3 separate regions of the Homo sapiens genome follow, and all the other regions are linked to region 3. Evidence: fine-mapped expression QTL. A gene starts in region 3. Each other region holds a variant in brackets. All regions are shown on one strand. Distances are from middle to middle. Region 1 overlaps CNGB1 (cyclic nucleotide gated channel subunit beta 1). Region 2 overlaps KIFC3 (kinesin family member C3). Region 3 holds the start of KIFC3 (kinesin family member C3).

Region 1 (5,000 bases), 84 kb before region 3:
GCTGAGGTGGGTGGATCACCTGAGGTCAGGAGTTCAGGATCAGCCTGGCCAACATGGTGAAACCCCATCTCTACTAAAAATACAAAAATTAGCCAGGCGTGGTCATGGGCACCTATCATCCCAGCTACCCGGGAGGCTGAGGCAGGAGAATGGCTTGACCCTGGGAGGCAGAGGTTGCAGTGAGCCAAGATCACACCACTGTAATGCAGCCTGGGCAACAAAGTGAGACTCTGTCTCAAAATAATAATAATAATAATGTCTTTAAAAAGAAACACACATAAGACAAGTTTATTATTATTAATTTTAGAGACAGGGTCGTGCTCTTTCACCCAGGCTGGAGTGCAGTGACACGATCATAGCTCACTGCAGCCTCGAACTCCTGGGCTCAAGAAATCTCCCGCCTTGGCCTCCCAGTGTTCTGGGACTGTGTGTGAACCACCACGCCTGGCCAAGTTCATGTATTATGGTTGATGAATGTTGTGATGGGAGATTTGTAGGAATCTAGCCTTGTATTTCCCCTAGGAACAATGTTTCCATTTTTGCTAATTCAGTGTCCGCAGAGATCTTATAGGACATAATTACTACAAATCATGAGATTCAACTGCTTATGACTGAAAACTGGTACCAGGTCTCCCCACCCTCTCTTCTTGCCCCCACCCCCACCAGGAGGAGCAAAGCTCAGGAAAGCCATGCTTTTAGCTGTTACCCATCCTGCTGGGTGGGTTAGGCAAGAGTTTGGCAAATCAGATGGGACCCCAAAGGCACCTCCCAAGAGCTGTGCAGAGGCCCCCATTCCTGACAGTGCCTGTGCACCTGTGTCCACACTGAGAAGGCTGAGGTGTGGGTGGGAGGCAGCCAGGCGAAGGAATGGGGCTAACAGGCCTCACAGCAACATGGGGGGGCGTGGGAATGGGGGTCTCAGCCATGAGTCATCAGAGTGGTTGTTTGCTGGCCAGGCCAGCTTGACCAGAGAGGCAGGGGATTGTGTATGAGCTCTGCTCATCAGGGGAGATACACTGTCTGAGAACCATAGTCCCGGGGACATCTGAGTTGGTGAGGGCCACGTGTGGGATTCTGTCCAAGCTCCCTGCTTTGCAGATGGGGGACCTGGGTCCCCAAAGAAGTGAAGTGCTGAGATCTCCGGCTTGACCACTCCAAAAAAGAGGATGAAGAGGTCTTATGTGGGTCACTTGCTCCAGGCTGATTGCTCAATCTCAGTTACAGGGAAGCATACATCATCAGAAAATGAGGACAAATTTCCCTAATCTGGAAATGCCCCAGAAGCTAGCTCAATGTTTCCAAACAGAGACAGCTAGTAGCAATCAGCAAAGGTCCTATACATAGTTATTTTGTTAGAAAGAAAAAGATAGTTCATTTTCACAGCACCCTCAGCCTTCCTGTGGGCTGTCACATCATGAATTATGGACTCAAATAACATGGGGGACAGTGCCGAGCTGGCGCGTGTCAGAGGCGTCTGGTGAATTATCATGTTTGTGTTCTCCTGGGGGATCTCCAGCTAGAAATGCAAATCTTGGGCAATTAATATCAACATGCACAATTTAAACCCATTGCCTCTGATTAGATAAGCAGCCAGTAATGGCCTCATTTTTAAACAAACAAGTTTTGCTGGAGCCTTGATGAATGAATTTGCCAATTCATTGTCTAGGCCCGCTGGTTGCAGGCAGAATTCATTTGTTCTTGAGACAAACTGCTCACCGCATGTTTGTAGTGTGAAAAATTGCCGGTAAAAAGCTAGGGCTCTCTTTGATGGAAAATCTACCCTTATCTAGAGAAACAGGGTGGTACATGCCATTAGATGTGGGTGGCAATTCTGCTTCTGCCACTTCCTGGTAACCTTGGGCACGTCACTCCCCCTGCTCTGAGCCTCAATTTCCCCAACTGTCAGAGGCACAATAATCTCAGCCCTTTCCATGTCACAGGGGTATTTGTCAGTGCCCAGGAAGATAATGATGCAATGTCGTTTTGTAATCATTAATATCTGGGGCACTGGGGTCAGAAGTGTGGGTTTGAATTCTAGCTTTGCCGCTTCTTAGCT[G/C]TGTGGCCTTGGGAAAGTTACTCACCCCCTCTGAACTTCTATACCCTCATTTGGAAATGAGGATGAATAATAAGACCTACTTATGGGGATTGTTGTGAGACTTAAATGAGAGAGTATGTATTAGCATAACAGTATTACCACAAATTTAGCTGTTTAAAGTCACACATTTGCGATCTCAGTTTCTGTGGGTTAGAAGTCCGGACATGGCTTAGCTAGGTCCTCTGCAAGATTGTCATCAAGATGTCTTCCAGAGCAGGCTCTCATCTCAAGTCTGGATGGGGGAAGGACCCACTTCCAGGATCACATGGTTGTTGGTGTAATTCAGTTCCTTGGGGTTGTAGGACTGGGGCCCCAGCTCCCACTAGCAATTGGCCAGTGGCTGGCCTCAGGTCCTTGCCATGTGGGCCTTCTCCAACACAGCTGGCTGCTCCCTACATCAAAGTCATCAAGGGAGGCCAGGCACTGTGGCTCGTGCCTGTAATCCCAGCACTTTGCGAGGCCATGGCAGGAGGATTGCTCGAGCCCAGGAGTTCAAGACCAGCCTGAGCAACATAGGGAGACCCCGTCTCTATTACTTAAAATAAAAATCAAATAAAAAATAAATAAAGTCAGCAAGGGAGAGTCCCCTTGCAAGACAGAGATCACAATCCTGTGTGACATATTCTACCAGTGATAGCCCTTGTTGTATTCGATTGTTTAAAAGCAAGACACGTACCCCACCCATCCTCAAGGGAAGGGGACCACACAGAGGCGTGAACACCAGGAAGGGGGTAATAGGAGCCACTGAAGGGTGCCTGCAAAGGATGGAGCAGAGGGCCTGGCATATACAGACACTCAGTAAATGCTGATAATTGTGATGGTGACGAGGGGGAGGTGACAGTGAAGCAGAAGGAGAAGGAAAGAGCTTTGGTTCCTTTTCCACCTGGGCATCTTATTCCCAATTCCCTATGTGAAAGTGTCCTTCAGGATTTCCTAACTCTTCTGCTGGTTAAAAAAAAGAAAGAGGCCAGGCGCGGTGCCTCACACCTGTAATTTCAACACTTTGGGAGGCCAAGGCGGGTAGATCGCTTGAGCCCAGGAGTTTGAGACCAGCCTGGGCAACATGGCGAAACCCTGTCTCTACAAAAAGATAAAAAATTGTGGTGGTGCATACCTGTAGTTCCAGCTACTCAGGTGGGAGGATTGCTTGAGCCATGGAGGTCAAGGCTGCAGTAAGCCATGATCACGCCACTACACTCCTGCCTGGGCGACAGAGCCAGACCCTGTGAGAAAGAGAGAGAGAGAGAGACAGAGACAGAGACAGAGAGAGAGAGGAAGAGAAGAGGAGAGAGGAGAGAAGACAGAAGAGAGAGGAGAGAGAGAGAGACAGAAAGGAAGGAAAGAGAAGAATTTCGTAGCTGTGTGACCTCAGACAAGTTATTCAACCTCTCTGAGCATCATTTTCCTCATCTCTAAGGTACAACAGACAGTAAGACCCACCTCATTACAGTTGTTCTGATCCTTCAATGAGATGCAATGCATAAAGTACTTAACACGACGCTTGGCCCAGAAAAAACTCTCTACAATCACCAGCCAAAATCACCACCACTACACAGCTCCAGCTTAAAGGAGGCTGCAGAAGCGAGTCTTTCTTTTCCCCCAGAGTGCGTCTGTGATGTCAATGGATGCTGCTTTCTTCCAGGCGCATGCTGAGAAGCAACAATAAGCCCAAGGAGGAGAAGAGCGTGCTGATCCTTCCACCCCGGGCGGGCACCCCAAAGCTCTTCAACGCTGCCCTCGCTATGACAGGAAAGATGGGTGGCAAGGGGGCAAAAGGCGGCAAACTTGCTCACCTCCGGGCCCGGCTCAAAGAACTGGCCGCGCTGGAGGCGGCTGCAAAGCAGCAAGAGTTGGTGGAACAGGTAATGTGGTTGGGAACCCAGCCACCACGTTCATTTCAATATGTGTCAGGGAGAAGGCCAAGGGGTCTCCAAGAGTGGGCCACACATTTAGTTTTAGGGTCTTCCCCCTCCTTTTTCTATCAGTCAGGGCTCATTTGGTTACCAGTGACAGAGTGCAAGCTCAAATTAGCTTGAGAAAAACGGGAATTAGGGGTCACGTAATCGAAAAGTTCAGGCAAGCCTGGATCCAAAAGCCCGAAAGATGCCAACAGGACGAGTTTTCCCATCGTGTCATCTCTGCTTTATTCAGTGATGGTTTTATCTCCAGACAGGTTCTCAAGAGTTCTATCTAGGATGACATCCTCCTGGCATAGCAACTCCAACAGAAAGAAAGCACCTCTTTCCCAGGGATTCTAGCAAAAGTTCCAGGACTCACTGTCATTGGACAGAATTGGGTCACATGCCAATTCTTGAGCCATTCGGTGTGGCCAGGGCACTATGGTGCTCTAAAGAGGCCTGGGTCACATACCCGCCCCTGGACTGAGAGTAGGCTGGGAGCAGGATCTCTAAAAGGCAGTCTTGATACTGTTGCAGAGGTTAGAGGAGAGGGTATGAGAAGCAAATGTCCGGCCCCAGAAGACAGTGTGTCCTCATATTTAATACTGTGTCTGTGACAATTTAAGATATTTGGGTCAGGCATGGTAGCTCACACTTGTAATCCCAGCACTTTGAAAGGCCAAGGCAGGAGGATCTCTTCAGGCCAGGATTTCAAGACCAGCCTGGGCAACATAGCGAGAACTTGTCTCTACAAATTTTTTCTTTTTTTCTTTTTAATTAGCCAGGCTTAGTGGCACATGCCTGTGGTCCTAGCTACTTGGGAGGCTGAGTTGGGAGCATCACTTGAGCCCAGGAAGTCGAGACTGCAGTGAGCTATGATTGCACCATTGCACTCCAGCCTGGGTGACAGAGTGAGACCCTGTCTCAAAAAATGAAAAATAAAAATTTGAAAGTGAAAACCTCTCACACAGGCAAAATGCCAAATGTCCCCACCCCCATAAACCTAT
Region 2 (11,203 bases), 29 kb after region 3:
CCGGCACTCACGGCACTCCCTACCTGCCCCCTGCACCTCAAGAGTGAACCTTAAAAAATTGTTTTCAGGCCAGGTGTGGTGGCTCACACCTGTAATCCCAGCACTTTGGGAGGCCGAGGTGGGCAGATCTTCTGAGGTCAGGAGTTCGAGACCAGCCTGGCCAACATGGTGAAACCCCGTCTCTACTAAAAATACAAAAATTAGCCGGGCATGGTGGTGCACACCTGTAAGTCCAGCTACTAGGGAGGCTGAGGCAGGAGAATTGCTTGAACCCGGGAGGTGGAGGTTGCAGTGAGCCAAGATTGCGCCACTGCACTCCAGCCTGGGTGACAGAGCAAGACTCTATCTCAAAAAAAAAAAAAAAAAAAAAAAAATTTGTCTTCAGAGACCACAGGCTGGAAAACTAGATCTTGCCCTCAAATGTGTCTTGTTTGGCTGCTGCCTTCTTCTTTTTTTTTTTTTTAAATCATTTTAAAAATAGACGTAACATAAAATTTACCATCTTAAGCATATATATATATTTTTTTTCTTGAGAGAGAATCTTGCTCTGTCACCCAGGCTGGAGTGAAGTGGCATGATCTCGGCTCACTGCAACCTCTGCCTCCTGAGTTCAAGGAATTCTCCCACTTCAGCCTCCTGAGTAGCTGGGACTACAGGTGCACACCACCACACCTGGCTAATTTTTGTATTTTTAGTAGAGATGGGGTTTCACCATGTTGGCCAGGCTGGTCTTAAATTCCTGACCTCAGGTGATCCACCTGCTTAAGCCTCCCAAAGTGCTGGGATTATTGGCGTGAGCCACCGCGCCCGGCTGATCTGAAGCATTTTTGAGAGTAACGTTCAGCAGCAGTACATTCTCATTGTGCAACAACCATCACCATCTGATACAGTTTGGCTCTGTGTCCCCACCCAAATTTCATCTCGAATTGTAATCCCCACATGTCAAGGGAGGGACCTGGTGAGAGGTGAACGGATCATGGGGTGGTTTCCTCCATGCAGTTCTTGTGATAGTGAGTTCTCATGAGGTCTGATGGTTTAAAAGTGGCAGTTTGCCCTTCATGTGCTCACTATCTCTCTCCTGCCGCCATAGAAGACATGCTTTGTGTCTCCTCCTCCTTCTGCCAGGATTGTAAGTTTCCTGAGGCCTCCCCAGCCATGTGGAACTGTGAGTCAATTAAACCTCTTTTATTTATCTATCTATTTATTTATTTATTTATTTATTTTTATTTTTTGAGATGGAGTCTCTGTCTCCCAGGCTGGAGTACAGTGGCACAATCTCAGCTCACTGCAACTTTCGCCTCCTGGGTTCAAGTGATTCTCCTGTCTCCGGCTCCCGCATAGCTGGGACTACAGGTGTACACCACCACACCCGGCTTTTGTATTTTTAGTAGAGACAGGGTTTCACCATGTTGGCCAGGCTGGTCTCAGACTCCTGACCTCAAGTGATCCACCTGCCTCGGCCTCCCAAAGTGCTGGGATTACCGGTGTGAGTCACCATGCCTGATGAAACCTCTTTTCTTTATAAATTACCCAGTCTCAGGTATTTCTTTATAGCAGTGTGAAAACTGACTAATACACCATCCATCTCCAGAACTCTTTTCATCTTCTGCTACTGAAATTTGGGCCTCATTAAAGAGTAACTCCTCATTCGCCATCTGTCTCCGTGGGTTTGACTGCTCATGTAAGTGGAATCATCCAATATTTGTCCTTCTGTGACTGGCTTATTTCACTTAGTATAATGTCCTCAAAGTTCATCTATGTAGCATGCATCAGAATTTTCTTCCTTTTTAAGGCTGAGTAATATTGCATTGTATGGATATACCACGTTTTGTTTGTTTTGTTTTTCCATTCATCCATCCATGGGCTGCTTCCACCTTTTGGTTACTGTGAATAATGCTGCTATAAACATGAGTGTACAAGTATCTCTTTGAACCCCTCCTTTAAATTATTTTGGGTATATACCCAGAAATGGAATTGCTGGATCATATGATAGTTCAATTTTTAATTTTTTGAGGAACCATCATACTGTTTTCCATAGTGGCCGCACCATTTTACATTCCCACTAACAGTGCACACGGGTTCCAGTTTCTCCATATCCTTATCAGCACTTGTTTTTCATTTTCTTTATTTATTTGTAGAGATGAGGTCTCGCTATGTTGCCCAGACTAGAGTGCAGTGGCCGTTCATGGTCATAGCTCACTGTAGCCTCTGAACTCCTGGCCTCAGGCAATCTTTGTGCCTCAGCCTCCTGGAGTAGCTGGGACTCGCTCCTGCTTATTTTCATTTTTGTAACAGCCATCCTAATAGGTGTGCAGTGGTATCTCATAGTGGTTTTGATTTGCATTTCCCTAATGCCAGTGATATTAAATATCTTTTCATGTGTGTTTTAGTTATTTGTATGTCTTCTCTGGAGAAATTGCTATTCAAGTTCTTTGCTCATTCTTAAATTGGGTTTGTTGTTGTTGAGTTATAGTTCTTTATATATCCAGGATAATAACTCCTTATCAGATAAATGATTTGCGAGTATTTTCCACGTGTTGCCTTTTCACTCTGTTGATAGTGTCCTTTGTTATACAAAAGTTTTTAATTTTGATAAAGTCTGACTTACCTATTTTTTCTTTTATTGCCTGTGCTTTTGGTGTTATATCCAAGAAGTCATTGCCAAATTTAATGTCATGACATTTTCTCCTCTATTTTCTTCTGAGAGTTTTATAGTTTTAGCTCTCACATTTAGGTCTTTGGGGTTTTTTGTTTTTTGTTTTGACACAAGATCTTGCTGTATTGCCCAGGCTGCAGTGTGGTGGTATAGTCATGGCTCACTGTGGCCTTGGCCTCCTGGGCTCAAGTGATCTGCCCGCCTCAGCCTCCCTAGTAGCTGGGACCACAGGCGTGTGCCACTGTGCCCAGCTAATTTTGGTTACTTGTTGTAGAGACAGGGTTTCCCTATGTTGCCCAGGCTGGTCTTGAACTCCTGGGCTCGAGCACTCCTCCTACCTTGGCCTCCCAAAGTGCTGGGATTACACCACGCCTGGCCCTCTTTGATCTATTTTGAGTTAATTTTTGTATATGGTATAAGGTAAGGATCCAACTCCATTCTTTTGCCTGTGGATATCCAGTTTTCTCAGCACCATTTGTTGAAAAGATTATCCTTTCCCACATTAAATGATCTTGGCAACCTTGTCAAAAATCATTTAACCATATATGCGAGGGTTTATTTCTGGACTCTGTATTCCATTCCATTGCTCTTTATGTCTGTTTTAATGTCAGTACCACACTGCTTTGATTGCTGTAGCTTTTTTTTTTTTAATTTTTTTTTTATTTGAGATGGAGTCTTGCTCTGCTGCCCAGGCGGGAGTGCAGTGGTGCAATCTCAGCTCACTGCGACCTCTGCCTCTCGGGTTCAAGCGATTCTCCTGCCTCAGCCTCCTGAGTAGCTGGGATTACAGGCGCCTGCCATGAGGCCCGGCTAATTTTTGTATTTTTAGTAGAGATGGGGTTTCGTCACGTTGGCCAGGGTGGCCTCAAACTTCTGACCTCAGGTGATCCGCCTGCCTCGGCCTCCCAAAGTGCTGGGATTACAGGCATGAGCCACCGCGCCTGGCCAATTGCTGTAGCTTTTTAGTGAGTTTTGAAATCAGGAAGTGTGAGACCTTCAGTCTTTCAAGACTGTTTTAGCTATGTGGTGTCCCTTGATATGGATTTTTCTATTTCTTTAGAAAATGTCATTGGGATTTTGTTAGGCATTGCATTGAATCTGTAGATCACTTTGGGTAGTACTGACACCTTATCAATATTAAATCTTCTAATCCATGAACATGGAATGTCTTTCCATTTATTGGTGTCATCTTTAATTTCTTTCACCAATATCTTGTAGTTTTTAGCATACAATATTTAACCTTTGTTAAGTTTATTCCTCGGTACTTTATTCTTTTTGATGCTATTGTAAATGGAATTATTTTCTTAATTTCCTTTTTGGATTGTTTATTGTTAGTTGTAGAAATGTAACCGATTTTTGTGTGTTCATTTTGTATCCTTCAACTTTGCTGAATTTATTAGTTCTAATTGCCCTGCTTTTAAAATCAAATTAATTCCAACATTCAAATCTTAATTAAATTCACATAAAACTCTAGACTTCCTTTTTGTCATAAAATATTGGAAGATGTGGCACCTCTGAGCTGACATTCCCACATGGCACCCACCGCTTGAGGTCTAGTGGCAGCTCCTGCCTTTGGTGGAGGTGACCATCCTTTAGCACGCTCCAGCCCCACCACCCTTTCTGTCTCTGCTTACCAACCTCATCCACAAGTTCTGCTCTGGCTGGCCCCTCATGCATTCAGCATTCTTCCTACAGGTACTTACTGAACACCTACTGTGTACCAGGCACTGTTCCAGGCACTGGGAGTACAGTGCTGAACACAACAGACAAAAATCCCTGCCTTCGCATATATCATCTCGTTTAATCCTCGAGACAGCTTCCATGAGGTAGCCTCATTATACAAATAAGGAAACTAAGAGACATAGAGAACTTAAGAGACTTGTCCAAGGTTACCCAGCAGGTAAGGGGATGTCTGGATTAGAACCTGGGCAGCCTGGCTTTAGAATTCGAATTGTCAGCTGCTATTACTGCCCATCAGTGGCGGAAGGACCCAGAGGTGAAGACTTGGCAACAGAGGCAGGGTGGCGTGGACAGGGGACAGATAGGCCTGGCCGGTGGTCATACAGCCAGGATCAGGCCTTCTGTGGGCTCCACAGGGTGTGCTCCCAGGGCCGCCCCGCTGGCCTCTGGGCTGAGTTTCCTTGAGGTTGTCTGGATCCCAGACCCTCTGGCCTTCCCAGCTCAGCAGCTTCAGCCTGGGAGAGCCCGCTTTTCCTCAGCAGACAGCTGATGATCGTTGACTGGGCTTGGTGGGAGGTAAGGAGGTAACCAGCAGGTTTTCTTTCTGTGATGGTAAGAGGCCGCCTTGGAAGCAGACAGCTGAGAAAACACAAAGACCTGGGCTGGCTGGCCCCACCCTTGGTCGAGCCGCTTCTGCCTGTGAAGTGTAAATGCAGGTGGTGTCAAGCCGGCAGACAGGCCCAGCTCCCTCTTCCCCTTGAGCAGGCAGGGTGACGCCCCCTGCAGCAGGCCCGTGATTCAGTTGCTCTGGCTGATGAGGAGCCTGGGCCCGGGAGGAGTGTCGCACAGCCCCAGCCTGGTCCGTCCTCAGCCCTGGATTGACGTCCATGCTGTCCTGGGACCGTTTCAGCCGCCTAGTGGGGAGTCTGCTTTCTCCTCCGTCCTGTGTCTTGGGCTCAGGCATGTGCCTGCTGCCCCTTTGTGGCCACAAGTATGTATCGGGCCCAGGGTGGCACTCGGGACCCTCCCCTGTTGGGCTTAGAGACATGGACGGCCCTTGCTGGCTGGAAGCTGCGGTGAGTGTGTGAAGGGCCCTCAGTCTTCCCTGAGGAAGGCCCTGCCTGCTCTTGGCTCTCACTGCTCCCAGGCCATCTTCCATCCGCTTTCCCCAGGTGCCTCCGTTTCTCTCTGACTTCTTGCCTGTTTTCCCTAACTCTGAGAGATTGCCTGCCTTCAAGTGCAGGAGAAAGCAGACATCTTCCCTACAAGCCCGAGACCTAGCCCCCAGTAGAGCTGGCCAACCACCTGCCACGGAGCAGGCCACTGGTGCCTTGGCCAGAGTGCTCGTGGTGCCAGTCTGCTGCGTCTCAGTCACATTCCCCCTGCTTTGCTGCCCTCAAGAAGCCAGAGATGACCTAGTGTCTGACACCTCTGAACAAAGGGGCCTTTAGAGCCCCTTCCTCAACTCCCTCACCATCCCCCATGCTCCCCAGCCTGCCCTGGTTGCGGTTGCGGCCACTTCCTTTTGGGTGCCCCTCTGAGATTCTGGACAGAGCCCAGGAGCCCCCAGGTTCCCATTGTGATGCAAGGACAGAACAGAACCCTGGGCCGCAGGCAGGTGGCTGGTGGGTATCCCGCCTCCCACCCCCAGCAAACACTGGCAAACCCCACTCTC[C/T]CTGCATCAGGGTCTGAGTGCCTGGCAGGGGCGGCAGTGGAGATGATCAAGGTTAGTGCGCCCAGCCCCATGCTGAGGCAGCAGCCTTTCTGGGGAGGGAGGGGGCGTGGAAGGAGACTTCAACCTTTTGAAGAGGAAGTCAGTTCACTTATGTCAGGGTAGGGAGAGTAGGAATTACGTATTCTTTGAGACTGAAAAATTACTGGCCGGGCGCAGGGGCTCACAACGGTAATCCCAGCACTTTGGGAGGCTGAGGCGGGAAGACTGCTTGAGGCCAGGAATTCAAGGCCAGCTTGGGCAAAATGGCAAGACCCTTCTATACATTAAAAAAAAAAAAAAAATTAGCCGGGCGTGATGGTATGTGCTTGTAGTCCCAGCTACTCGGGAGGCTGAGATGGGAGGATGGCTTGAGTCCAGGAGGTCTAGGCTGCAGTGAGCCTAGATCGAGGCACTGCACTCCAGCCTGGGTGACAGAGTGAGACCCTGTCTCAAAAAGAAAAAAAAAAATTACTGAAAAGCATAAAGATTTTGTCAACTATAATTCCACAGCCCAGAGACCCCCACTTTTTAGTGCTGTACACTTAATGGTTTTTCAGATGTTTCTTGGACTTAATATGTTGATGAGCCTTTCCCCATGACATTTAAAACTCCTGATAAACATGAATGTAATGATGACAGAATAGTCTATGTACTATATATACACATTGTAATTCACCTGCCCACTCCTCTAAGGGTGCTTATTCAGGGTATTCTCAATTTTAGGACGAAAGCAGAAAGGCTGCCTCATGCAAACTGTCCCTACTCCCACCCAGGGGCCAAAGGACTTGAGCCGTCCTCTCATCAGGCACTGAGCGGGCAGAGAAGTGGCACAAGCTCTGCCTCCCTGCCTGGCCCGTGGCCCAGCGTGTTGCTAGGAAGGAATGTGTTTGTGCAGGTGGCGGCAGAGCTGACCTCCAGGGGTCTGGCCCTTGGGTCACCTGCTTGTCCCCCAGGAGGCCTGGCTGGGCCCCCAGCCTTTCACCTGGGTCTTGCATCTTGGAATCCCCCTGCCCCACCAAGAGCAGGCAGTGCCAGCTCCCTGGCCTTTTCCTCAGAGGTGGGGGTGGATCCCTTGGTCCACTTCCTCCCTGACCACTCAGAGCTGGCCTAGCTGCTGTGAGTCAGCCGTTCTCTCCCACCCTGGGAGACAGGGACCTCCGAGGCCGAACACTACCTTGTTTGATGACACAGACTTGTTTGATGACATCTCAACCATGTAAAGTAGGGAGATTTTACACACACCCCCAAAATCCAAATGTCCGGCCTGTCTTAACTATGGCTGATGCATGCTGCTGAGTGCTAAGGGGGCGGACTCTAAGCCTCTATTTTTATTTTATTTTTTTTAGACAGCCTCGCTCTGTCACCCTGGGGTACAGTGATGCTATCATAGCTTACTGCAGCTTCAAACTCCTGGGCTCAGGTGATCTCCCACCTAACCCCCCGGATTACAGCTGGGATTATAAGCGTGCACTGGTGCACTCGGCTGAGTTTTGAAACTTTTTGTAGAGATGGGGTCTTGCTGTGTTGCTCAGGCTGGCCTAGGCCTCTCTTGAAAGATGAGAATTTTGGCGATGCTGGGTGTGCGTTCTCACCTCCTGTCGTCCGAGGAGAGTACGTGGTGGCCGCCTTCTTAAAGGGTTCTTGGGAGCCAAGCCCTGCACAGCCCCTCACCTGCCTTACCTGGCTGTCCCCTGTAATCAGTGGACGTTGTTGCCTATCATTTAGTAATGAGAACCCAGCTGTGTAAACCTCCTAAACCACCACACAGGAATCTGGCTCTTAGCGCACCTTTCCCGAGGTGGGGGTTGCTCACCACAGGACGTTCTGCAAGAAAAGTACTAAACATGCCCTGACGGAAGCTGGAGCCAAAGTCTGTGTCTGTGAATTGTTTCCTGAGAGAGGTTTCTGGGGGTGGGCTGATGTGAGACCAGGGTCTAGGGCCTTGGGAGGGGATGGGTGGCTGGAGGACAGCGCCGGGGAAGGGTTGCTCCCCTGGGATCTGCCCTCATGGGACTGGCACCATGATGGTGTCCCCTCTTCTGGGGTCCGGATAAGCTAGGTAACCGTGGCTTCCTCATGGGGTGCACACCCCCTTCCCCCTATAAGAGCCTTGGCTGCCACAGCTTTCCTGCAAGGCAGATTGGGAGCAGGGGTGGACACAGGTTCTGAGTGTGCCCTGACCACTGGCAGACCCATCTCCACAGGCTGACTTGCCAGAGACCACCCCAAGTGGAAAATTCTGGGGGCTGGGCCAGGGTGGATCTAGGGCTCGGAGGACCTGGAGTATGTACCATCTGGGGGCCCTTTTAAAGAGAGAGAACATAAAATTACATAGACACAGGCAGGTACAGGACTTTGGGAGGGGCTCGTGTAGTGAGGGGTCCTGAGGGTGGGCTGCCGTTGGGTGGGCCCAGGGGGCATCGGGGTGGCCTTGGTTGCACTTGCCCTCTGGGCTTTCCTGAAGAGCTGGGGTTGGCTCTGTCCTGTGGAGGGAGAGGGTGCGGGAGGCTGTCAGCACCAGCCCAGGTTTCTCTCACCTGAAGTCCCAGGTGTGATGGGATGCTTGAACATAGGGGAACCTAAGGCCACAGCCTTAGAAGAAGCCACAGCCACATCAGTCATCCCTGGTGCTGGGCAGGAGGCCTGGGTGTAGGCTGGAGCTGAGGACTGAGGCTCACCTTGCTCCTGACTCTGTGCCCACAGGTAGAACACCTGAAGGAGAAGCTCATTAGCCAGGCCCAGGAAGTGAGCCGACTGCGATCTGAGCTGGTGAGGCCACAAGGCTGTCCTGGGGTAGCGCAGGGCCTGGCCTGCCTTGTGCAGATGGGCCCTGCCAGGGGCAGGGGTGCGACCCTCTCTCTCCTGAGCCCGCATATCCCACCCTGTCTCAGAAACACACCGAGAGCCTTATCCCCACCTCCTAGTACCCTCAGAGGCCTTGTGGCTCCAGGGGGTGGGAGGTTCCTTCTCTGTTGCTGACATTAAACGGGAGTGTGAACCCTGGTATAAATATGTCTCTCCTTGTGACTTTCACACTCAGAATAGGGTGGGGGCAGCAGGGAGAGCAGGCTCTGGGTCACCACCCTTCTCAACTCTGCCCTCCACTGTCTTTCTCTTGGTTTCTCTCTTGAGCTTGTTCCCTCCTCTCTTGCCCTTGCCTTTTTCTTTTTCTTTTTCTCCTTCCCTCTGCCTTTCTCCACACCTCTCCTCTCTTCCCTGCCCTTGTGCCATCTCCGCGGGCCTCTCTTCTTTCCCCCGTCATCTGCCCTCGCCACATGCGCCCCCTCGGCCCTGGCTCTCTGCAGGGGGGCACCGACTTGGAGAAGCACCGGGACCTGCTGATGGTGGAGAATGAGCGACTGAGGCAGGAGATGCGGCGCTGTGAGGCCGAGCTGCAAGAGCTGCGCACAAAGCCAGCAGGTCCCTGCCCAGGTTGTGAGCACAGCCAGGTGAGCAGAATGGCCGTGGTCCCCATGCTGGTCCTGGAGGGCCACCCCAGCTCCTCACAGTGAGCCTGTCCCTTGCACTCATCCAGTGCCTCCCAATGGCTGCAGGAGAGCGCCCAGCTCCGTGACAAGCTGTCCCAGCTGCAGCTGGAGATGGCGGAAAGCAAAGGCATGCTGTCAGAGCTGAACCTAGAGGTGCAGCAGAAGACCGACCGGCTGGCTGAGGTGGAGCTGCGACTCAAGGACTGCCTGGCTGAGAAGGCACAGGAGGAGGAGCGGCTTAGTCGGCGCCTGCGTGACAGCCACGAGACCATTGCCAGCCTGCGGGCCCAGTCCCCACCTGTCAAGGTGAGCCCTGGCCCACCTGATCTGTGCCTCAGCCCAAGGCCCCTGGCACCTGGGGCAGGGCTAGCCCATAAGGGGGGCTTGTCCTGGTGAATAGGTAGGTGTGTGTGGGTGGAAGAATCATTCCAGTTCTGTGCTTGGTCCTGCCCCTTCCCCTTCCTGTATCCAGGGCCAGGCACCGAGTAGGTATCCAACAGCTGAGGTGCCAGGCACAGATGCAGCGCAGCCCCTGGATTCTGCCCTCGTCTTTTTGCCTTTCTTGTCTGTACCCAGGATGGGGCCCCAGCCAGGCTCATAGTAGCCTCTTGTTAAGCTGAGAAGGTTCCAGGAGACCCCCCCAGCTTTCTGGAAAGCCAGGACCTCAAGGCTCCTCTAGTTTTTTTCTGGTTTCTGAGTGGGATGTTCCCGAGAGTTCCTTCCCCTGGCCTGCTGCGTCTCAGGCTCTTGGGTGAGGTACGGTGCCCGCTGGCTCCACGTGCCATTCCTCCCTCACCCTGCAGTATGTCATCAAGACAGTGGAGGTGGAGTCGTCCAAGACCAAGCAGGCCCTCAGCGAGTCCCAGGCCCGGAACCAGCACCTGCAGGAGCAGGTGGCTATGCAGAGGCAGGTGCTGAAGGAGATGGAACAGCAGCTGCAGAGCTCACACCAGCTGACCGCGCGGCTCCGGGCGCAGGTACCCAGGCTGTGTGGGGGCACATGCCCAGCCAGGAAGCCAGAGGCAGGCCCTTGGGCCAATGCATCGGTTAAACATTTGGGTACCCCACAGACACGGGGTCCAGTCCCTCCTCTCCCCGATGGCCACGGGACCCAGGGCAAGTTTTGTCTGGTTTCCTTTTCCTCATCTATTATAACACGATCTGGTCCCAGAACCCACCTCACAGTGGGGACTCAGGAACGTCATCCCAAGAAGCTTTGTGCCCACGGCCCAGCACACAGGCTGTGCTCAGTAAGCTCTACATGGCACTTGTCACTGTCATCACAGAGGCCCTCTCCTACCTTCCTGAGGGCACGTGGCTTGGGCACCTGATGTGTGCTCAGCACTGGGTTGGTGTTGGAGCCAATGCCCAGAGCTCACAGCCCTGTAGGGGGAGGGAGACAAGGCCATTCTGCCCCTCTGGGTGTGCACATGTGTGTGTGCATGTGTGTTCATGTGCATGGGAGGTGACCAGTTTCTTTCTCGGTGTGGCACCTGCCCCTCTCTCTCCCGCACCTCGAGGTACTGAGCCTTTTCCTGGTCTGGCCAGATTGCCATGTACGAGTCAGAGCTGGAGCGGGCCCATGGGCAGATGCTGGAGGAGATGCAGTCCCTGGAAGAGGACAAGAACCGGGCCATTGAGGAGGCCTTTGCCAGAGCCCAGGTG
Region 3 (10,302 bases):
TCTCTGAGGGCTTAACAGCAGGCAGGGATTGGGAGCACTGAGTCAGTGCTCTCAGCCCCACCTGGCCTGGCCCAGCAGACAGAAACACTCCCGGCCTGAGCACCTGGCAGAAGAACCAGATACGCCCCTCTGGTGACAGCCATCGCTCAGATATCTTTATATATGCCTCATGCCTCCCAGGAGAACCAGCCAGGGCGAGAATTCCAGATCCAAGAGAAAAACTGTAAATTAGCGTGAAAAGTAGTTCTCGTCAAAAAATGCTGCCAACGACAGTGTAAATTTGGTACAGGCCTTCTGAGGGGCAATCTGGCAACATGTTTAGAAAGTGAAAAAAAAATGCTCAGACTCTTTATTCAGAAAGATTTTTTATGAAATTGACAACCTCTCTTCTCCCTTCCCTCCCCACACCAGGGAATGAACGGGCTGTGTGGGTGGCAATGGTGACAGCAATGCTGTTTATAAAAGTGACAAAAATGGGAGCTACTCAAATATCAGACCCTACGGAATGGCCAGCTCAGTCAGGGCACAGGCTCTCAGTGGAATATTATGCAGCCATTTAAAATAGTTTTTTGCTGGGTGCAGTGGCTCACAGCTGTAGTTCCAGTACACGGGAGGCTGAGGTGGGAGGACTGCTTCAACTCAGGAGTTTAAGGCTGCAGTGAGCTCTGATCATGCCACCTCACTCCAGCCTGGGTGAGAGAGCGAGACCCCAACTCTAAATAAGTGAATAAATGAAATACTTTTCAGCCATTTTTATTGAGTGCTAGGTGCGCCCCAGACACTGGAACCTCCATTCTGAATGTGACCTTGGCTTTATCCTATGATGTCTGCACTTCAGAAAAATGTAGGCATTAGCAGGAAAAAGTGACATGGAAAATGCTTATTATAATAATTAAAAAAAATTTAGAGATGGGAGTCTTGCTATGTTGGCCAGGCTGACCAACTCCTGGGCTTAAGCGATCCTCCCACCTCTGCCTTCCAAGAAGCTGGGACTACAGGCATGAGCCACCACACCCAGCACTTACATGATTCAAAGTAAGAAAAGGCAGAGTAAAAAATTCTATCCGGTCTTTGCCTCCCACTATAACTGCAGCTTGTGTTTGCAGAAATGCCAATTGTGTGCCAGATGCTGGGCTGAGGGTGCTATGTGCTTGCTCCAATTTACATCTCACCATAACTCAATGGGTTAGACACTAGCCCTACTCTCATTTTCACAGGAGGAAACTGAGGCACAGCAGAAGTGACTGAGCCAGTGAATGAGCTCAAACCCAGGTCTGCCTGGCCTCAGAACCACCTTTAGCCATCTCTCTATACTGTCTCTCCTTAACACAGAAATGACATCAGCTCAAGGTCAGATACTGGAAAGAAAAATCTGGGCCAATGACAATAAGTGAAGGGTGGTGGGATTTGGTGTTTTAGTTTTTGTGTTTTTCCTCTCTCTCTTGGTTTCTATTAGATTTGTGCAGAAAAAAAAAAATTTTAAGTTCAAAAACAAAAACTGCCACCTAGAATTTGCAGCAGGTGGGGAGAAGTGAATGAGGAAGTGGGGAAAAATGCGAAGGATGTTAATAACGCATGTGCTGGTTTAGAACCCGGAGCTATAACAATTTAGGAGCAAGGAGAGAAGCGGCAGAACACTTAGCAAGGAGGAGCCCGGCGGCTTCTGGAGGATGGTGGGAGGATCCTCGGGCTGAGAGGCGGGCCGGGGGCGGGGCTTATTTGGCCCGTGCTACTCTCAGGGCGGTTATTGCTAAATCTTTTTATTACCTGGTGCTTACGTCCATTATCTCCTCAATGTTTGCATTCCTCTCATTTTTTTAAGACTACAGGAAATGATAAAAGGGGAAAAAAAACCTCACAAAGCCTCCGTTTGCTTTTAGCCTTGGAGTGCTAGGAGGGAGGGAATCTCCGCCAAATTCCTCCTTGAGTCATAAGGCTTTAGGTTCCCCTAAACTGAGAGTTAGGGGAGAACTGTCGAGTTCAGTCTTTTTGGCCAATGCAGAAAGGCAGCCACCATTTGGATTTTAAAGCAAGGTGGTTTCCTTTTTATTTTCTAGTCCTCTTAGAAGGTTTTTTTTTTTTTTTTTTTTTTTTTTTTTTAAGACAGGATCTTGCTCTGTTGCCCAGGCTGGAGTACAGTGACACGATCATAGCTTACTGCAGCCTCAAACTCCTGGGCCCACGCCATCCTCCCGCCTCAGCCTCCTGAGTAGCTGGGACCACAGGCCTGTGCCACCGCGCCTGGCTTGTTGTTTTGTAGAGACAGGGTCTCAATATGTTGTTCAGGCTGGTCTAGAACTCCTGGCCTCAAGCGATCCTCCTGTCTCATGAGCCACTGTGCCTGGCCGGCAAGGTGATTTTCTTGGGGGAAAGATTGCCTTGGTTCTCTGAAAATGGGAGAACTGTTTTCCCCTGTTAATACAGCTTCTAGAAAGGAAGGGACACAGGGAGCAGGAAGGTGAGAGGGAGAGAAAAGAGTGAGAAAAGTACCATTAGTTTAAATATCACTTGAACACCTAATGCTTGCTGAGCTGGGTCTAGAGCAGACAAGGATGACAGGAATTTACAGTCCAGTCAAGGGACATCCAAGACCACCACCTCTCCATGCCCACTGAGGAGCCTGGCTTCCTGAGAGCTTGCAGCTGTGAGCCTTGTGCCAGACCCCCTGAGGTGCTCAGGGTGAGTCATGTGCCCAAGACCTGCAGTTGGTGACATGCAAAGCTGGAAACCAAATTCATGCTTATGGGGCTGGGTGCAGTGCCAGGCTCTTCACCTCCAAGAGCTCTTCCACGGGGTTTTTTTTTTTCTTTTTTTAGACAAAGTCTTGCTCTGTTGCCCAGGCTGGAGTGCAGTGGCATGATCTTTGCTCACTGCAACCTCCACCTCCTGGGTTCAAGCAATTCTCCTGCCTCAGCCTCCTAAGTAGCTGGGATTACAGGCGCCCACCAGCACATCGGGTAATTTTTGTATTTTTAATAGAGATGGGGTTTAGCCATGTTGGCCAGGCTGGTCTCGAACTGCTGACCTCAGGTGATTGCCCGCCTCAGCCTCCCAAAGTGCTGGGATTACAGGCGTGAGCCACCACGTCCAGCCTCCTCCGTAGTTCTTTCTGCGGTGCTCATGATGAATGATTTCAGAGGGATTGGAAGATTGGAAGATGTGGATTCAAAAAAGCAGCTAATTGGGTCAGGATTACTTAATATGCGGCTCACTCCAGAATGAGTTTCTCCAACTTCAATAAATGTTCTGTTACCCAGAAGCATGAGAGGACACACTTTTCACAGCTGCAGGGCACTCCTTCCTGACCACATGGAAATAATTGCTAAGGAGCCTTCTCTTACTTCCTTTTGGTAGAAATTATCATTACTTTACATGGGAAGAAAGTCTGTTTGGGTACATTTCACGCACCTGTTCTTCCCTTCTGAATTCTATGGGATCTATGGATTTATTCAATGAACATGTCTGTGATACCAGGCCCTGAGCTGGGGTCAGCTGAGGATTTCCCTGTGATCAAGTAACGAAAGGGTCCTGTCCTGAAGGAGCAGATGGTATACACAGGAACGCCATCATGATCCAGGGTCGGGGATGCTGCAGGGGGTGAGTTGAGCCCGCCTGCTGGTGCCTGGGAGGGTCAAAGAAGGTGACCTCTAAACTTGAAGGAGGGACAAGCAGGTATGGAATTGGCCAGGTAAGGGTTAGTGGAGGCAGATGAGAATGGGGTGAAGGAGAGGGGCTTTCCAGGCAGGGAGGACAACATTTGCAAAGGCTCGGAGAAGACTTGATCTGAGGTTAAATCATTTAAAATGGGAAAATCATGTAAATCTTATCTGTGCTTTACTCTGGGTTGCTATGAGAATCAGATTAAACACAATCTGACTTTTCATTCCCCTTCTTTCCTTCCCTTTGGGGAGCAGAACTCTCAGGCTCTTGGCCACTTCTCTGACGAATGCCTGAGCAGTAAAGGGTTTCAGGCCCTCTGAACACAAAGATGGGTCAGGTGTGGTGGCTCATGCTTGTAATCCCAGCACTTTGGGAGGTTGAGGCGGGCAGATCACCTCAGGTCAGGAGTTCGCAAGCAGCCTGGCCAACGTGGCAAAACCCCGTCTCTACTAAAAATACAAAAATTAGGAGTTTGAAAGCAGCCTGGCCAACATGGCAAAACACCGTCTCTACTAAAAATACAAAAATTAGCTGGGCGTGGTGGCGCATGCCTGTAATCCCAGCCACTTGGGAGGCTGAGGCAGGAGAATTGCTTGAACCCAGGAGGCAGAGATTTCAGTGAGCCGAGATTGCGCCACTGCACTCCAGCCTGGGCAACAGAGTGAGACTCTGTCTCAAAAAAAAAAAAAAAAAAAAGTCTATGGGCATACCACCGTGAACACACCTGATCTTGTCTGAACACAAAGATGGCGCTGCTAGTCCCTGCCTGGGGATGGGGTGGATGTGGGCGTGGAATTGCAGTGTTCTGGACACTGTCTTCTGTCTGGCCCTCCCTGAGACAGCTGTGCCTCTGCCAGAGTTCGGCAGGAAGGGTCAAGGCTAAGGCTGAACCCAAGAGTCCTCCCTCAAGGGTTTAGGACTTCAGTGTTGGAATGGCCAGGTTTCAGCAAAACTTGCACCTTTCCCGGGGCCAGGAGAGTTGGCAGCCTCCTATGCAAATCATCAGCGAAGTTTCTGGGTTAGAAATGACCTTGGAGTTGGTACGTAGTTCCTGATGACATTGTACATTCTTAAATTCCAACAACTGGGATGGGCATGGTATGGTGGCTCATGCAAATAATCCCAGCACTTTGGGAGGCTGAAGCAGGATGATCGCTTGAGGCTAAGATTCTGAGACCAACCAGGGCGACAGAGCTAGACCCCGACTCCACACAATATTCTTTTTAAAAAACTGAGTCATGCTGGGCACGGTGGCTCATGCCTGCAATCCCAACATTTTGGGAGGCCGAGGCAGGGGGATCACTTGAGGTCAGGAGTTCGAAACCAGCCTGTCCAACATGGTGAAACCCTGTCTCTACCAAAAATATAAAAAATTAGCTGGGTGTGGTGGTGTGCGCCTGTAATCCCACTGCACTCCAGCTTGGGTGACAGAGCGAGCCCCCGTCTCAAAAAAAAAAAAAAAAATTGAGTCAGGCACAGTGATTCACATCTTCACATCTGTAATCCCAGGACTTTGGAAAGCCAAGGTAGAAGGATCCCTTGAGCCCAGGAGTTTGAGACCAGCCTGGGCAACATAGTGAGACACCCCCATCTCTACTTAAAAAAAAAAAAAATTAGCTAGGCACACTGGTGTGTGCCTGTAGTCCCAGCTACTCAGGAGGCTCAGGTGGGAGGATCACTTGATCCCAGGAGTTCGGGGCTATAGTGAGCTATGATTGCATCACTGCACTCCAGCCTGGGCAACAGATCAAGATCTTGTCTCAAAAATGCAACAACCATGAAACAAGTAGTTTTTACGTTTCAAATCGGAGTTTTGCTAGAATTCCAAAAATACAACCTCCTTACACTTCAATTTCCTTTTTCCTTCGCTGGTGCTTTGATCTTAATAAGTTGTTATACCCATATGCATCTGATAGTACTGTGTGAGTACCTATTGGAGTCATAGCTCTATCACACACTGCATTTGTGAACAAACTTTCTGAGGCTCAGTTTCCTTTCCTGAAACACGGGTGTCCTGAAACAGTACTGGTGTTCATAGGGTGTTCAGGGTTAAATGGGATTTTGTTTATAAAGAGCTTAGTGCTGTGCCTGACACAGTGTTAGCTTCAATAATGGCATCTATTATGTACACAGGAAAAAAAAAGACTTCTAAAGTGTTGGCAGCATTTATCTCCAGTGTGTGGGATATGGTTACAATGAACATCTATTACTTTTGTAATCAAAGCAAAAGAACAATAAATGTTATTATTAATTTAAAAATCTGGCTTTGGCTTTGGTGGGAAGGACCTACAGTTAATGTCAATGTACTCAATCCCTGAGTAAGAAAAAGTCTCCAGTTTTGAACCAGGACTTTAAAGACATTCTGTCCTCCCCATCCCCCGCCCCATCAACTCATAGGGACTATAATCAAGGGAGATAGATACTAAATCAGAATTCTAGAGACATTTTGCCTTCATCCACCCTTGCGGTCCCCTGGATCACTGCTGTTTGGAGGGCAGGCAGAGGAATTCAGAGATCATAACTCCCCAAATAAGGCTTTCTCTCCCATTGGAAGGGTTCTCCAGTGTGGTGTTCAGCTGGAAATCTAACTCTCTAGGGAATGATTCCAGGAGCGTTACATTCACCCTCTATCAGGCCTTCACTGAGGAATCTCAGTTGTCAAATAAAGCATGCACTAGGCTGCTTCCAGCTGGGGGACTGTGACTGTCCTGCTCTGGCGTCCAGAACAATCTGAGGCCCAGGCCCTTGGCTCCGTCGCTGGTCGAGATTCTTGACTGGCAGCCCAGCGCCTGGGCGGCAGCAGGAGATAGAACCCACCTGGAGTTGCCCGACCCCCTCCAGTCCTCTCCTTGATCTTCTTGGGCCATCCCCTGACAAGCAGGAAGGGACAGAGTACCCGCCCTCCTGGGATTATCTGCAGAACCGTCAGCCTGCATGGGCTGGCTTCAGAGTGACTTGCTTTCTCCTCTTCCGCACCCGGGGGTGTGGAGAGTGAGGGAGAATATTGCTGCTGGCTCTGGAATAAAATGCTGCCTCTGTTTGGGAGACAAAGAACAGAGTGGCTCCTCCAGGTCAGCTGTCTCTCCCGGCTGGCAGGCCCCTGGCCTCCCCCAGGCCTCTTCTGAGGCTCTAGGTGCCCCAGTAGCAGGGCCTTCTGCAGCAAGGCCGGGAACTGCTGCACCATTGGTGTGTTTTACCTTAAGGGACTCCAGGCAGCTTCCTTGCTGGGAAGATATTCATTTGCTGGGGTGGGGCTGGGGGTGCAGAGGTAGGAAGTGCTGTGGCTAGAAGGCGGCCTGGCCAGCGAGTAGGTGGTGGAGCGAGTGAGAGCGTGTGCGCTGTAAACAGTGTGAGTGCATGTGCGCCAGCGCGTGCAAGGACACGGTAAGGGATGTACATGTATTGTCTCGTGAGTAAGAGCTTGTGTGTGTGTTGGGATGGGAAGACACGTACTGGTATGAGAGCCCGCGTGAGAAGTGTATGTGTGAGTACTCGCGTGGAAGTTTTGCACTCGGGTTTGAGGCTGTGCAAAAGTACGCATGGCTCACCAGGTGTGGGGCTGTGTGGGCTGCCTCGTGTGTGCCAGCCCGTGTGCAGGCCTGTTTTGTGAGAGCCTTCAGGGAACGCATGAGCACGTGTGCCAGTGCGAGTGCGGGACGCGGGGAGGCGGGAGAGACCGAGTGGGAGGCCCCGCGAAGGAGTGGGAGTGGGAGTGGGAGTGCCGGCGGGAGACCTGCGGGGGCGCGCCCGGGCTGACGCGTGCGCGCCAGTGCGCGTGAGTGCGGGCGCGCGCCGCCGCCCCCCGCCGGGGTCGGAGCCGGTTGCCATGGGAACGCGCCGCGGCCCGAGTTAATCATTTCCTGTGGAAAGTGTGCGGGAGGGGCGCGAGCGGGCTGGCCGAGGAGGAGGCGGCGGCGTGGAGCTGCCTCCTGCCGGCGGGCCGGGCCGGGCCGAGCCCCGGGCGCTGCGGCGACGCCTGGATCCTGCCTCCGCCAGGCCGGTGAGTGGGGGGCCCGGGCGGGCTGGGTGCGAGCGGGGCGCTGGGCTCTGCCCGGCCCGCCGTTTGGGGCGCCGCGTCCGGGCCGGCCCTGCCCTCGGGACCCCTCTGCCCGGACCCGCTATGGGCGCGGGGAGGGAAAGGCCCGGGAGACCCAGCCCTGCGAGGTCCCCTCCAGCGCCGTTCAGCCCGAGTCGAGGACCTTGCTGGGAGCTGGGCACAGGGGCGGCGTGTCCCACGGGATCCGAGCAGCCTCGGGACCCCGTTTGGATTTTATTGAACGAGAAGAGCGCAGACCCTACCCGGGATGGGCTTGTCAATCGGCGCCGCCCTCTCCCCTTCCTGGCGTCTTCCCCACCCCCAGGGCTCCCTGGAAGGCTGCCTTTGGGTCCCTCCCACCACGTCCCTTGGGGAGTTCGCTTTTTCCCTGGCAGGGCCTGGGGCGGGGTGCGCCCGCCCAGAGGTTAGGAAGAAGGGCCTTGGCCGGTGCCCTCCGGGCAGTGAGGAATCGGGCCATTGACAGCCGCAGCAGTTGTGAGGGTCTCAGCAGGGAGGGCGATCCCAGGACCACCCCTTTAAGCCCAGCATTGCTAGTTAGAGCAGAACTCTGGCTGGTGCAGTGAAGGGCCTGGTCCTGGGAGATATTAAAGAGGAAGCTGTGTTTAATTAAATTCTGGAGTACCATTTACTGCCACCCAGCCCCCACCTCCATACCCCAACACTGTCTCAAGATTGCGGGTTGTGGCCACCCCTGGTCTTTCACCTTCCCCGGCTTTTCCTCTGCCTGAACAGGGTGAGCACCCATTCTTTCCCAGACGTGTATTCCCCATGCCCTTGTTAGAGTAGCCGTCTCCTTGACCAGGGAGAGTCATTTGCTAGGAATGCAGTCTCAGAATGGGGCCCTGCATTTGCAGTGAGTGGACTTTAGGGGCACAGGGTGGTGAGTTCTGCTGTTCACAGGGGCACCAGGGAGCAGAGGGTTTGAAATCTAGGTTGCCCTGGAAAGCCCAGGATAGATGATGGTGTGCAGGGAGGTGGCATTCCCTGTACAACTTCCTTGACCTTCTGCCTGCTCTCCCAGGGCGACCAAGCCCTGCTTGCTGCAGTCTCTGAGCAGCTGTCCAGCCTGTCCCCCCAGTCTTTGCAATGTCCCTGATCTAGGGCAGGGGGAGTATTGCAGCTCTGCTGTCCTGGTCTAAACCCAGAGAGGCAGAGACCCTCTTCCCCAGCCAGGCCCTCTGCATTCACCCACCACTGGAGCAAAGTAACTGAAAAATAAAATTTTGGAGCTCTTTGTATATGCCAGTATTGTTCTGAACACTTGGCCTTGTCTAATCTTTAGAGCAACCCTATAAGGTGGTGTTCTCCCCATTTTATAGATGGAGATAATGAAGTACGGAGAGGCAAAGTAATTCTCCCAAGGTCAGACATCTAGTAAACAGGGGAGCCAGGTTCTGAACCAGTCCCACTGCCCTCCCCCACGAATCCTAGGTTGGTAGAAGTCCCCGGACACCAGGTTTCATCTCAGATGCCCATGTAAATGAGAGAGAGTCCTGCTTTCTTGGCCCAGAACCCTGGGCTTAAGATTCCTTGATACTTTTGACCTTCACACCCCTGAGGCTGCTAAATTCAGCTGCTTTTTCCTCTTCGGGATCTAGCACACGCCCTTCCTCTTTCTTCCCGATATCTTCCTGGCTGCCTCCTCCACTTCCCTTCCTGATAACCGCAGAAACGCTATCTCCTCCTGTCCCTGCCCCTCAGACTGAGCTGAGCTGATCTCCCTGAAAGTCTTCTCTGTCCACTGTGGAGTCAGCCTCCAATGCCCTGCACTGTCTCACCTTCCCAGCAGCCGAGACTGCAGATGGACCTGCCTTGCTCCTTCCCTTGCCCATTGGACAGCTGGTCTGCAGGGTTGGTTGTGTGCCCAGCTCTGTGCCAGGCAGCCTGGAGAAGAGGACATTTGGCTGCTCCCCTTGGTTTCTTCCACGCCACACTGGTCCATCTCAGTTTCCTCAGTGGAGCTGGCCCACGTATTTAGATCAGCCTCTGCCCTGTCCTTTGGCCCACATTCCCATCCCCTTCCCAGTAAGACTGAACCTAGGAGCCTCCTAGTTGTTCTAAGTCAAGGAAGGAAGAGACCATGGCTTCCTCGCCAGGTGCCTGGCATTCTTCCAGGGTTGGGCTCTGCAAACATCAGACACCAGATCTTCAGGCCCCTAACCCCTGGACCCTTTACTTTATTATTTATTTATTTATTTATTTTTGCCTCTCAATGCTTTAGTCACTCCTGTCTCTCTGTCTCCCCAATATGCTCAACTCTCCCCCTATTCTAGACACCACATCCTCTCCTTCCCATCCTAGCCAAACACCCCCAAGGAGAAGGAAGTGGCTGCTTCCTCCCCCAGCTCCCGCCCCACTCTTTGAGCCCTCCGAAGTTTGCCATCTGCCCTTCTCCCTCCACAGGCTCAGGCTTTCTGCCTGTCTGGGCTTTCAGTCCTCCACGTCTCTTTGGCATGATGCACTGGGCACTGACCAACCTCTCCTTCCCACTTACACTTCAGTCACTTCTGAAAACTCTATACTTGCCTGGAGCTCCTGTCCCTCTCTCAGCTTCCTTCTGCAGCTTTCCACCCCGCAGTGAGCCC

Evidence for each region. PIP is the estimated chance that this variant, and not a neighbour inherited with it, causes the effect.
Region 1: its variant is the best candidate, but not a certain one, in a credible set for the expression of KIFC3 in whole blood (TOPMed, PIP 0.88).
Region 2: its variant is the best candidate, but not a certain one, in a credible set for the expression of KIFC3 in whole blood (TOPMed, PIP 0.87).

The regions. Positions count from the first base shown.
Region 1 is chr16:57,886,812-57,891,811 of GRCh38, reverse strand. CNGB1 (cyclic nucleotide gated channel subunit beta 1) reads left to right here. Exons shown (of 33, transcript NM_001297.5): 32 at 3,738-3,957. Among named protein-coding and RNA genes, the nearest start is that of CNGB1, 82 kb to the left of the region's middle. The variant G/C (reference allele first, on the strand shown) is at 2,057.
Region 2 is chr16:57,769,839-57,781,041 of GRCh38, reverse strand. It overlaps KIFC3 (kinesin family member C3), which reads left to right. Exons shown (of 20, transcript NM_001130100.2): 4 at 8,754-8,819; 5 at 9,356-9,499; 6 at 9,605-9,844; 7 at 10,342-10,515; 8 at 11,087-11,203. MIR6772 (microRNA 6772) reads left to right here and starts at 8,690; the gene lies at 8,690-8,753. RefSeq lists enhancers at 4,665-5,243, 5,212-5,271, 5,822-6,400. The variant C/T (reference allele first, on the strand shown) is at 6,012.
Region 3 is chr16:57,799,728-57,810,029 of GRCh38, reverse strand. KIFC3 (kinesin family member C3) reads left to right here and starts at 7,539. Exons shown (of 20, transcript NM_001130100.2): 1 at 7,539-7,660. RefSeq lists enhancers at 6,566-7,242, 7,920-8,596.